2 separate regions of the Homo sapiens genome follow, and region 1 is linked to region 2. The links come from fine-mapping of genetic effects on gene expression. A gene starts in region 2. The other region holds a variant in brackets. All regions are shown on one strand. Distances are from middle to middle. Region 1 overlaps IGF2BP2 (insulin like growth factor 2 mRNA binding protein 2). Region 2 holds the start of IGF2BP2 (insulin like growth factor 2 mRNA binding protein 2).

Region 1 (5,334 bases), 60 kb before region 2:
AGGCAGGAGAATCGCTTGAACCTAGGAGGTGGAGGTTGCAGTGAGACAAGATCATGCCACTGCACTCCAGCCTGGGTGACAGAGGGAAGCTCGGTCTCAAAAAAAAAAAAAAAGAAAAGAAAAAGAAAAAGAGACACAAATTTGGGAAATACCATGTTTGAGAGACAGTGTGTTTTGATAGTATTTGAATACAGGTCAAATCCCTTGAAGAAGCTTAGATATAATAATAGAGGTGAATGCAATAATAGAGCTTATACTGGCTGCAGTCTACTTCAGTTACTGCTCTAGGAAGAAGCAGCCTTCAAGAGGGGAGAAAAGTCTGGGCAATTGAAGAGGCACAGATGAGTTTCTTAATAATAGCAAATGGATGAATTTTATCCAAGTGCTTTAAAGTACATTTAACACAGAACAATCTGCAGCAGCTATTCTCACCCCCACCAAAACCTCCCTTCCTCAAGATGAACCAATCTCCTGGTTTTTTCAACAATATGAGAAGAGCAAAATACTTACTTTTTATTTGTTAAGAAGGTTTATCTGCCTAGAATGTGATTCTCAAGCCTGGATACAGGGGATCCCAAAACAGGGATTCATTAGAATCACCTGTATAGATGTTTTTTTGTTTTGTTTTGTTTTTAACAACAAAAAATAAAGCAGCTAAGCCCACCCAGAGATTCTAATTTAACTGGTCTGGGATTGGATCCAGGCACTGGTATTTTTTTTAAAAAAACTTCCCAGTGATTCCAACATAAACCTGGGTTGAGAATCAATGGTCTGTACAAACACCTCCTCTTTCTACACCAAGTCCTATCTGTGGGGTTTCTGTTTTTGTTTTTTCCATTTTAAAACAAGCTTTTTCTCTCTTCAAGGCTGAATCTCCTCCATGTACTGTACCAAAATTACCCTACCTTAGTAGGTCCCTGGTCATGTAATTGTTCCTGACACTCCAAGGTTAAAGCATTTGTATTTCTCCTGCGACTTAAGCATTTATGGATATACTCAGCATTATATTCATAATGTAACCAGCATGTTTATGTTTGTTACTATGGTTTGTGCTTAAGTTACAAGCTTGTCTTATCTCCCTTGTTTGATTCAGCAGATGATTTTGGAATGCATATTATGTGAATGTCACTGTGCTCAAGGCCTGTGGAGGCTACAAAAATGTAAAGCCATTCTTGTAGCTGTCAAGGAACTTAAAATCCAGAATGGAGATAAGACAGAAATAAATAACACCACCATATAGAATATAAAATCTGTAACAGACAGCCAAGGTATACTAGACTACTCTCAGCTGCAGAACAAAGACATATATCAAAATGCTAACAGTGGTTATCTCCAGGAAGTGGGATTAAGAATGTTCTTTGTTTTTGCGTGTTTTTTTTAAGTCTTTTACAGGATGTATGTTATGGGAAACAGTCTCTAAAGAAGGAGAAATCTGTTTGAAGGATGGAAAGTTGACGGGTGGAGAAGGGGCATGAGCAAAGGCAAAGCACCAAATGTATTTGGTGACAGTGGGTAACTCCGTTCTGCTGCTGTTTCTTGGAGTGAGGGCAGAGAGAGAAGAGGGTGAGGTCAGAAGGATTGTAGCAGTATTGCCAAAACCTTGAATGTCATAGAGAGGATTTTTAATTGGCAAATGGGAGCCACTAAAGGTTTTTAAATGGTACTTTTCCTTATTATAAAAATAACACTTTTCTTAAAAAATACTATTATATGTCTATTATATAAGTAATTGGAAAGGAGTAAAATCCATAAAGTAAATAAAAATTATCACCAGAAAGCTCATCACTCAGAAAAAAAAAATTGCTAATATTTTGGCACATTTCCTTTCAGTCTTTTCTGTCTGCAGTCATGAAAGATTTTTTAAGCAGGAATGTGACCTCATCAGGGCTATGCTTTAGGAGGCTGGGTTATGAGATGTCCGAAGCACAAAGTGGCTTCCTCACACACATTCTCTACTTCTTCTGCTTATGTTTTTGCTGCAGATCCACAAATAGGTCCCAAGGGGCAAGCAGAACCTGAGGGGAAAGCCCAAGGCTGAAGCCTAGGGAGAAGCATTCCTAATATTCAGTGAAACAGACAAGAAGCCCTTGATGGAGGTGAAGAGACCAATCTGCAGAGCAGCAACAGGTTATCAGGAAGGGGAGTCTTGTCTTGAGAAGGGAGGTTGTTTCACAGGACCGCAGAGAGCTTTTCTAGAGATCATCTTCACCATGATTCCCAGTGGGGAGATTCCTAAAAATAGGCAATTACCACATCTTGTATGTGATAATTATATTACGATAAAACAGCTCATAGTATGACAGCTACTGCCTGTGAGTAAGAAATCGTGTTGCCTCTGAGATCACAGCTTCAAGAAGGGGTTGACCTGTGTCAAAATCCCCTGACAGGCTTTATT[T/C]GTCAAGTCAGTTCTCACAGCACTCAGCCTTGCCCCCAGCTCTGAGACAATGGGGCTCTGTGTAGGAGCAGAGGCCAAAATCTGGAAGGACACTGGCACGCCTCTTCTACCCCCACGAGGTGTTTATTATTTTGCTTGCAAACAGGCTGGGTCCAGTGTTTTACTTTCTTCCCCCTTCTTCCCTTTGCTAATTTTATCTCAATTTCAAATTAGTATTTTTCAAGAGATAATTTACTTAATTCCCAGCCCCTCCTACCCGTTTATGACTTAGGAATGAATGTAAGCACAAAACATCTTGTGATGGCCTCAAAATAGAAAGCAAGTTTAAAGTTTTATTTTTCTGTCCCAAAGCTGCCAAAGCTCTGGCGTGTTTTAACTTCTGCTCTACACACTGTTTCCCCCTCCGTCCCTCCCATCCAGCTATATTTAGTAAAGCCCAAATAAAAGGGATACATACAAAGCAAAATTAAATATAGTTTCTTTCAATCAGTAAACCTGAGTTAAAGCTCATACAAACATTCATATACTAAGAAGTACTCTCCTCCTCCAAAGACAGCTCACAGCCTCACCTGTCTCACACCAAGTAGCAGGTGCGCCTAGAAAGGCAAACACACCACCTCCCCTCCTTAATCTCAGACCACTCCTTCCCCCCTTGATCCCACACTGCCCTCCTTCAGTGCCACCCCCACCTCTATGCTCTCCATTTCTAGATGCCAGTGTACCTACATCACACTCTACACTCCACCTGCACCTAGAGGGAAAAGAGGAGAATTGAGAAAGGTCCATCTATTAATACATGAAAGGCACGCAGAAGTGCTCGAGGACCAAGGGAGTGTAGACCAGGCTGCTCCAAAGCACACCACTGCAGCAGCTTCACCCCACATCTTCATCTCCAGTGACTGATGTCAAACTTATCTTTGACTTTCATTGGCTGAAAGAAATTCTATGGGACTTGGGTGCAAGGAAGACACTCTGATTCTGGTTTTCTAATAGGGATGAAGATATTATAATGGTAACAAGATTTTGGGGGGAAAATTCTTGTCCACAAGGCAGCAAAGCTGTAAAGCTAAATACGGAACATGCCAAAGAAGGGAATGAGGCAGGTTTACGGAGGAGAGTTTGTGGGCATGGGTATGGGAATGTCTCCAAATGCAACTTTTCCCATAAAAGAAGTATCTGACTGCCCCATCCCTTTTCCAAAACCAAAGGCACACATGAAGATGGGAGAAAATGTGGAGGTTCTAAGAACCCGATGGCTGGGTAGCAAACTCATCCTTCTCGGGATGCTTTCACCTAAATAAAGCCCAAGGTGCTATACACGGCCACTAAGCATATTTAATTCTACTATCAAAGAGGAAGCTACTACCAGGTCCAGTGAATAGCAATAAAACTATTTAGACAATATCATCAAAGCCCCAAATTTATTTGCCACTACATTAAGGCAAAACAATTTAAAATATTTTAAATTTAAATTTAAATACATTTTAAAATATTTTAAGTATAATGATCTAGAACGTGGACCAACAAACTACGGTTGATAGGTCAAATCCAGCCAGCCACCTGTTTTTGTATAGTCTACAAGCTAAGAATGTTTTTCCCTTTTTTTAAATGGTTGGAAAAAAAATAAAAAGAATATTCCGTGACATGTGAAAATTATACAAAATTCAAATCTCAGTGTCCATAAATAAAGTTTTATTGGAACACAGCCATGCTCATCCATTTACATATTGTCTATGGCTGCTCTTGCAGAGTTGAATAGGTACTAAAGGGATAGTATCATCTAACAAGCCAAAAATATTTACTAGCTAGTGCTTTACAGAAAAAGTTTGCCAACCCCTGGTCTAGAGACAAACCTGGGTTGTGAAAAATACTTTTTACTGATTTCATTTAATACTTTATAGTTTTCCCTGGTATATTCACACCTATTACTTTCATTTTATCTTCACTCCAAGTCAGTGAGTTATATCCTGTTTAGAGATGAGATCGCAAGTTTGAAAGTGGACTTGCCCAAGGTCATGCAGCAGTTAAGAGGCAAGGCCAGGGCTACACCCCAGTTTTCTGACCTATATCCCAAGGTGTTCACAACACACAGCTGTCTTCTTGGATGCCTGCTAATTGTAGCTGCCGTCTTTTAGACATTCTCTCCACATTTGATAGTTCACCTTAGTGTAAAGTCCCTCCTTCCTAAAATAGGACTGAAAACAAACTGCCCAGCCCCACTTCCTGCTAGGATAGAGACACACAACTGTGGACCCAGTGGCTTCCCAATCTGGCAGAGGCAGTTGTGGGAGAAGCTTCTCGATGGTGGCATAGGCAACAGCTCTCTTGGCAGACCAGTTCTGCAGACTATCAAGAAGCTCCACCTGCAGCCTGTTTCTTCAGCCTGTCCGACAATTCTGTGATCTATCTATATACCTCAATGCATTCTTTTGTGCTTAATCTAGCTACTCTGTGGATTCTGTTCTCCACAACGATGACCAGAGACCAACACAAGTTCAGAAGAAATCCTTATAATACTACAGTGTTTCCTAAAACCTTCCAGAACAACTTCCCACCATCATTACTATCTTCTAAAATCCAATCCCATTTCCATAAGATGTTAAAGGATTCTGTAGTTATGTAAATAAATTATAAAACATCAAGTTAAACAGATTTCTTTACTACAGGACTTCTCAGAGCCTTAAAATGCATGTGTGCTTCACAAATCTCCAAGAAAGGGACAAGTATACAACATTTGAAAAATGTATTTGACCACTGAACCATTTTTTAATATGTCTTACCAGTACAGTAATATATTTGGGGAAATATTGATCAACATACCTTCTACTTGGAAAAAAAAGTTTATAATTATAAAATATTTTAAAATAAGGCTGCTGAAATGAGGAATACAATTCTGGAATATGTTGGGTGAAATTATGGAATGTATTAGGGTTGAAAAT
Region 2 (5,372 bases):
CTTACTTAAAATAAAACATATCTGGAAATGTGGCACACAATTTTTAAAAATCCCTTCAGCAACACATCTAAGTATTTATAAAATTAGGGTAGTTTGTTTTAAAATCTACTCAATCCTGACAAAAATCAGGTGGTTAAACTATTGACTGATAAACTGTAAAGGTGGTCATCAAAAACTTCATTGAACAGCTCCAGTCCAGCTACTTAATGACTAATGGTGAAGAAATGTATGTGAATGGGATATAAACTAAGTTTCGACACACAGCAGAAGAAAAAAATTTAGAATGAGTAATAAAGGGCCCAAATTTAAAGTCCACAATAAACTTTAAACAAAGATGTTTTCTCTTCTCTTCTCATGTTAGCAAATCACTGTGGAGAAATCCAACCTCCACAAAACTTGTTACTCCGTCATTAACAACAGTGCACTTAAATATAACTATAGATTTCACAAGGGTATTTATTTTAGCCGCAAACATTTCTTACAAGCAACAACAACAAAATGCTCAGAAGCTATACTCAGTAGTCTCAGTGACTGAAAAAGTCCGGCTTTTAACTGCCATCCAATCCAAACAACCCACTTCTTTAGAAAGCTATGCAAAATATTGACCCCTTACTGAATTATTTTACTATTCAACATTAAACTATCTAAAAGAGAAAAGTAATTAATCGCTAAGTTTAGTTAAGCAATTTAGCTGACATAGTAAATATTTACTCTTCACATCTCACAGGAAGTCTTGACAAGCATTTGCTGCTATTCTGCTGGGGGTAGGGGCGGGAGGTGGGGGTGGGAGGCAATTTTTGATAAACAAGTTACAGGGTCCCAGCGAACTGAACATAGCTGGTGTTCGCCACCCCGACCCCCAATTAGGCACCAGATATTTTCCAAGAACAGTAAACACCTTATATAATGAAAGTAAAAAAAAAAAAAGTAGCTTTCTAAACTATGTATCTCCACTAACAAAACAAACAAAAGCCCCTTTAAAAACTACCAAGAGCACGTTTTTTAAAGCTGTGTGTACGTTTTTTACTTATACGTAAGGCCAATCGCAAAAAAAAAACTAAGCAAAGTATATTTACCTTAGCTTTTTAGAGACTGAGTAATCAACTTCCATGATTTTCCCATGCAATTCCACTTTACCTTTAAAACAGAAATTAAAGCACTCAGAACCTTGCTTAGATCAAGCCCGCGGGGGTCTAGGGGGGGCACGCACGGAACTCCACGCTCGGGCTCCGCCTTCGGGCGCCCCCAAGGGGTCTCCTACCCGGATCGAGCTGGGCGAACTTGGTTCCCAGTAGAAAGAAAGGTGGGCGCCCCGTGTCTCGGGACAAGGCGAGGAGGGTGCGAGCCCGGGTCGGACCCCAGGTATAGCCGTGGGTGGCATTACCGGAAAAACAAATTTAATAAAGAGCGGCGCCAATTTGAAAGGATGAGCTCATTTGAAACTCAAGCTGCAGGGCTGGCGCGGCCCCGCTGCTCTCCCGGCCCCCACCTCTCCATTCCGCTAATCCGGGGCCCGAAGGCTCCACCGGGCTCCCCTCCCTGCCCTCTCCTCCCGGTGGCCCCGAGAAAACGAGCCGAAGCCCCCCGGAGTCCGCCGCAGCGACAGCCCTGTCCCTGCCCGCTCCTGGGTGTCACCTTGGCCTCGCCGCCGCCCCGCCCCCACTCCACACGCCGGTGGGGAAGGGGCTCCCGCCGGGCCGGGGTTCGGGGGGCGCCGGCCGGGGCCCGGGGGCCCGCGCGGCTGGGAGCGGAGCGTGTGCTGGGGAGAGTTGGGGAGTGCGCGCGCGCGAGTGTGTGTGTGTGTCGCTCTCCGTCTCCTGTCTGGGCTCCAGCGCGCTCGCGGGCCCCCCGGTCGCCTCTTTCCCGGTTCTCAACCCTGGCCCCCACCGAGTTGAGACAGGGCACCTCGTAAAAAGGTGCTTCTGGCCGAGCGGGAGGCGGGGGGACGGGCGGCGGAAAGCCCCCAGCCCCGAGTTCTTCTCAATAAAATCGGACAAAAAATTCAGAGAAAAATAGGAGCGCTTGAGAGAGCAAGCGAGAGGGGACTGAGGTTCGGGAAAGGACCGAGGGGATGTGCCGTCGTGCGAGGGCTGGGGCTGGGGGAGCCCCGAGATCTCGAAGGGGGTCACCAGGGTGGCGCCGAGGGGGTGCCAAAAGTGGGGGGCCGTGGGGCGAGGTGGGGAGGGGGCTCGAAAGGAGAGTGCGGCTCAGGAGACGCCAGAGGGCGAGAGGTTCTGGGCACGAGGCACTGGAAGAGAGAAGGTCCGGCCGGGGGAGGAGGAAGAGACGCTGGATTTGGGGAAGGGGGGACCCTGACAAAGGGGGTGACAGGAAGGTCAGGGGAGAAGTGAGACAGGGGACGCTCAAAGGGTGGGGGGCGGGGAAGCTCAGAGCAGCCCGGGGCGCCAGGCGAACGAGGGGTGCCCCTAAGGAGCCGGCGAGCCTCGGGAGCCTTCGGAGCGGCACGGGGGGCGCCCCAAGGCTGCGGCCCCGAGGGCGAGGGCAGAGTCCAGAGCTGTGGGGGGAGGGGAGCGGGCCGTCCCAGGAGCGGGCCGGCGGCGAGAGTTGAGGGTCTGGTGCGTGGAAGTGAGCGTGCGGGCGCGGGAGCCGCCGCCGGGCGCCGCCCGCCGGACTCGGCCTCCCTCCCGGCGCCGTCCCGGCCTGAGCGGGGCGAGGCGGGGGGAGGGGGCCGCGCTGAGTGCTCACCCGAGAGGGTCTCGATGGCGCGGATGGCCCAGTTCTGGTCGGGGTAGTCCACGAAGGCGTAGCCGGACTTCAGCAGGACCTGTCCCGCCAGGGGCAGCTTCCTGTCCCCAAAGAGCTGCCGGAGGTCGTCGGCGGTGACGGCGGGGCTCAGGTTCCCGATGTAAAGCTTGTTCATCATCCGTCTCTTCCCCGAGAGCCCGCGGCTCCCCCGGCCCGGTACCCGGCGCTCCTCGCCTCCTCCGCTGCCCTCGTCTCTCCTCCTCCTCCGCCCCCCCTCCCCGCCCTCCGCCCGCCCGCCACCCACCCCCACCCTCAGCCTGGCTCCCCCCACCGCGGCCGGCCCGGCCCGCCCGGGGGCAGAGGCGGAGGCGGGGACTCGGCGCGGCTGCCTCCTCGGGGCAGAGTCCCGGGCCGGGCGGCGGCGCGCGGACAAAGCGCTCTCTCTGCCTCCCTCTCTCTCCCTCTCAAGGCGGTGGCGGGAGGAGGAGCAGCGGCGGGCGGCGGCAGCGCACCCCGCGTGTGTCTGTGTGAGAGTTTGTACGGGCGTGTGCGCAGCCGAGAGGGAGCGAGCGAGCGCCCCCTCCCCGCCCCGCGCCGCTGCGCCCCTCGCCTCGCGCCCACCGCGCTCGGCAGTGGCTGCTCGGGCTCCGGCCCCGCGCCAGGCGGGCGGAAGCGGGTCGCGGCCCCGGGCTGGGGCTCCGGGCGCCGGAACCCCGGGCGGGCGCGGCGCCGAGGCCGGGCGAGCGGCGGGGCGGGGAAGGCGCGCCCCGGGCGCGGGTGGGAGCGCGCGAGGGGGCGACGGGGAGCCGCGGGCGTGGGAGGGAGAGGGGCTGCGAGTGAGCGCGGAGAGGGGTGTGCGCAAGGTGGACCGGATGTGAGTGCGCTGCTGCCAGGGCAAGCGGGAAGGTGTGTCCCGGAGGTGAGAGGCGAGGGCAGGCTGGGAGACAACAACTTTCGCAGCGACTTGGCCGGGGCTGGCGCCCTGCGCGTTCCCGGGCCGTGCGCTCGCTCTGAGACCCGCTCCCCGCCACGCTCTCTGAGGTGACCGAGCGGCGCGTGTGGTCGAAGGATCGCGCGCGGGAGTCGGGACGCCTAGGACCGGGGTTGGCCGGGCCCTCGCGGACCGTGCTCGCGGGGAAGTGGTTCCCGGTCCCGGGCCTCAGTTTCCCGACCGGGGAGGGAAGGCGGAAGGCCAGCGCGGAGTCACGTCCTCTCCGCCCAGACCCCGCGTGTCCGGAACCCCGCGGCAGGCGGCAGCCTGACGTTGGCAGCTGCTCTCTATTCTGGGAAGTGCCGAGGGCTTCCCGGGCGGCGGCGGCGAAAGCCAGGTGGCGGGTGGGGAAACGAACGCCGAGGGGCCAGGGACTGCGGCGAGGCCGGAGCGCTGGGGTCAGCGGCCGGGGGACGGATGGTCGCCGCCCGGCTGCGCGGCCGGTTCAGCTCCAAAGCCAGGGTGGTGGGAGGCGAGGGTGGCTGGAAGCGGAGGAGCGCAGGCTGTGTAGGAGTTCCCCGAGCACTGGGAAGGGCCCGGAGAGGAAAGAGGTCCTTCCAAGCGGAGGAAACAACGTGACCGACGGAAGAGGCAGGGTTGGGATGAGAGCAGGCTGGAGCCGAGGGGCTCGGGCAGGAGCCAGACAGGCTAGAGCGGGCTGCAAGTTCCGGGGCCCGGCTGGAAGCCTGATGGTTAGAGCCTGGTCCCAGCCAGGAAATGAAATTCTACAGGAGGGAGAAGAATGGCGGGATTCAGAGGTGAGGAGGCAGAAGAAGATTCCAAGCTCTGGACCTCTGGGGGCCACTGGGAGAGTTGAAGGTTTGATCGCGGATATGTTGGGTTTTGTGAAGGCGTTGGGGCGCGGGTGCGGGGAGTGTCCTTGGGTGGAGAAGTCACGAATGTAGGAATGGAACAAGTTCGGGTCTCCTGACTGGGTCGTGAAGTAGTATTGTCTTTCCCAAGCTTTCCTGTTGATGAGCGGCGTGGAGAGAATGGGGCTTGCTGGATTTTGTATTTTCCGCAAGTACTCCCAGGTGATTCTGGTCTGGTAAACACTGTTGGAGTGGAAGGCCTATCTGCCCCGGACTCAGACCTTCTCTCTGCCCCCATCTTTGTGCCCTGAGATGTTCCAGCATTCTCGAGCCTAAGTTTCTTCATCTATAAGGAGATAAAATAACCAGTCCTCGCAGGGCTGTTGTGAGGGCTACAAGAAGGATAACTGCCTAGCGTGTTGAGACATGGGTGGTCAGACACTTAATGCCTGTTTCTCTTCTTTCCCCCAGGAATTCATGAACTTTTAAAATACTTTATTCTACAGAAGGAGATCTTCTTAACTAATTAGGTATCCAGAGGAGAAAGTAATGAATCCATTTTCACCTAGATATTTGCAGTTATTTGAATTCTGGCTTTTGTCTCAAGTATTCACATATTTTTTTCTCTCTCTAGAAAAAGAATCGGATTTTACTGCTCCAGGAGTTGAGAATGAACTTGGTTACTAATCCCCAAAGTAATAGATAAACTAGGTGTGGATGCTTCTTTACTAAATTGTATCAGAGAATCACAAATGAACATGACTTGTGCATGCATAAACCTCAGCAGACTGAACTAACCATCTTTAGATTATTTACACATGTGCTCCTAATTGATATGGTCACCTTTATATTATAGGACAGCA

What was found. PIP is the estimated chance that this variant, and not a neighbour inherited with it, causes the effect.
Region 1: its variant is the best candidate, but not a certain one, in a credible set for the expression of IGF2BP2 in tibial nerve (GTEx, PIP 0.68).

What each region holds. Positions count from the first base shown.
Region 1 is chr3:185,762,435-185,767,768 of GRCh38, forward strand. All of the region lies in intron 2 of IGF2BP2 (insulin like growth factor 2 mRNA binding protein 2), which reads right to left. Among named protein-coding and RNA genes, the nearest start is that of MIR548AQ, 2.8 kb to the right of the region's middle. The variant T/C (reference allele first, on the strand shown) is at 2,396.
Region 2 is chr3:185,822,077-185,827,448 of GRCh38, forward strand. It overlaps IGF2BP2 (insulin like growth factor 2 mRNA binding protein 2), which reads right to left and starts at 2,966. Exons shown (of 16, transcript NM_006548.6): 1 at 2,707-2,966; 2 at 1,077-1,137. The coding sequence starts at 2,884. RefSeq lists an enhancer at 969-1,832 and silencers at 2,772-3,002, 3,014-3,283, 3,694-3,783.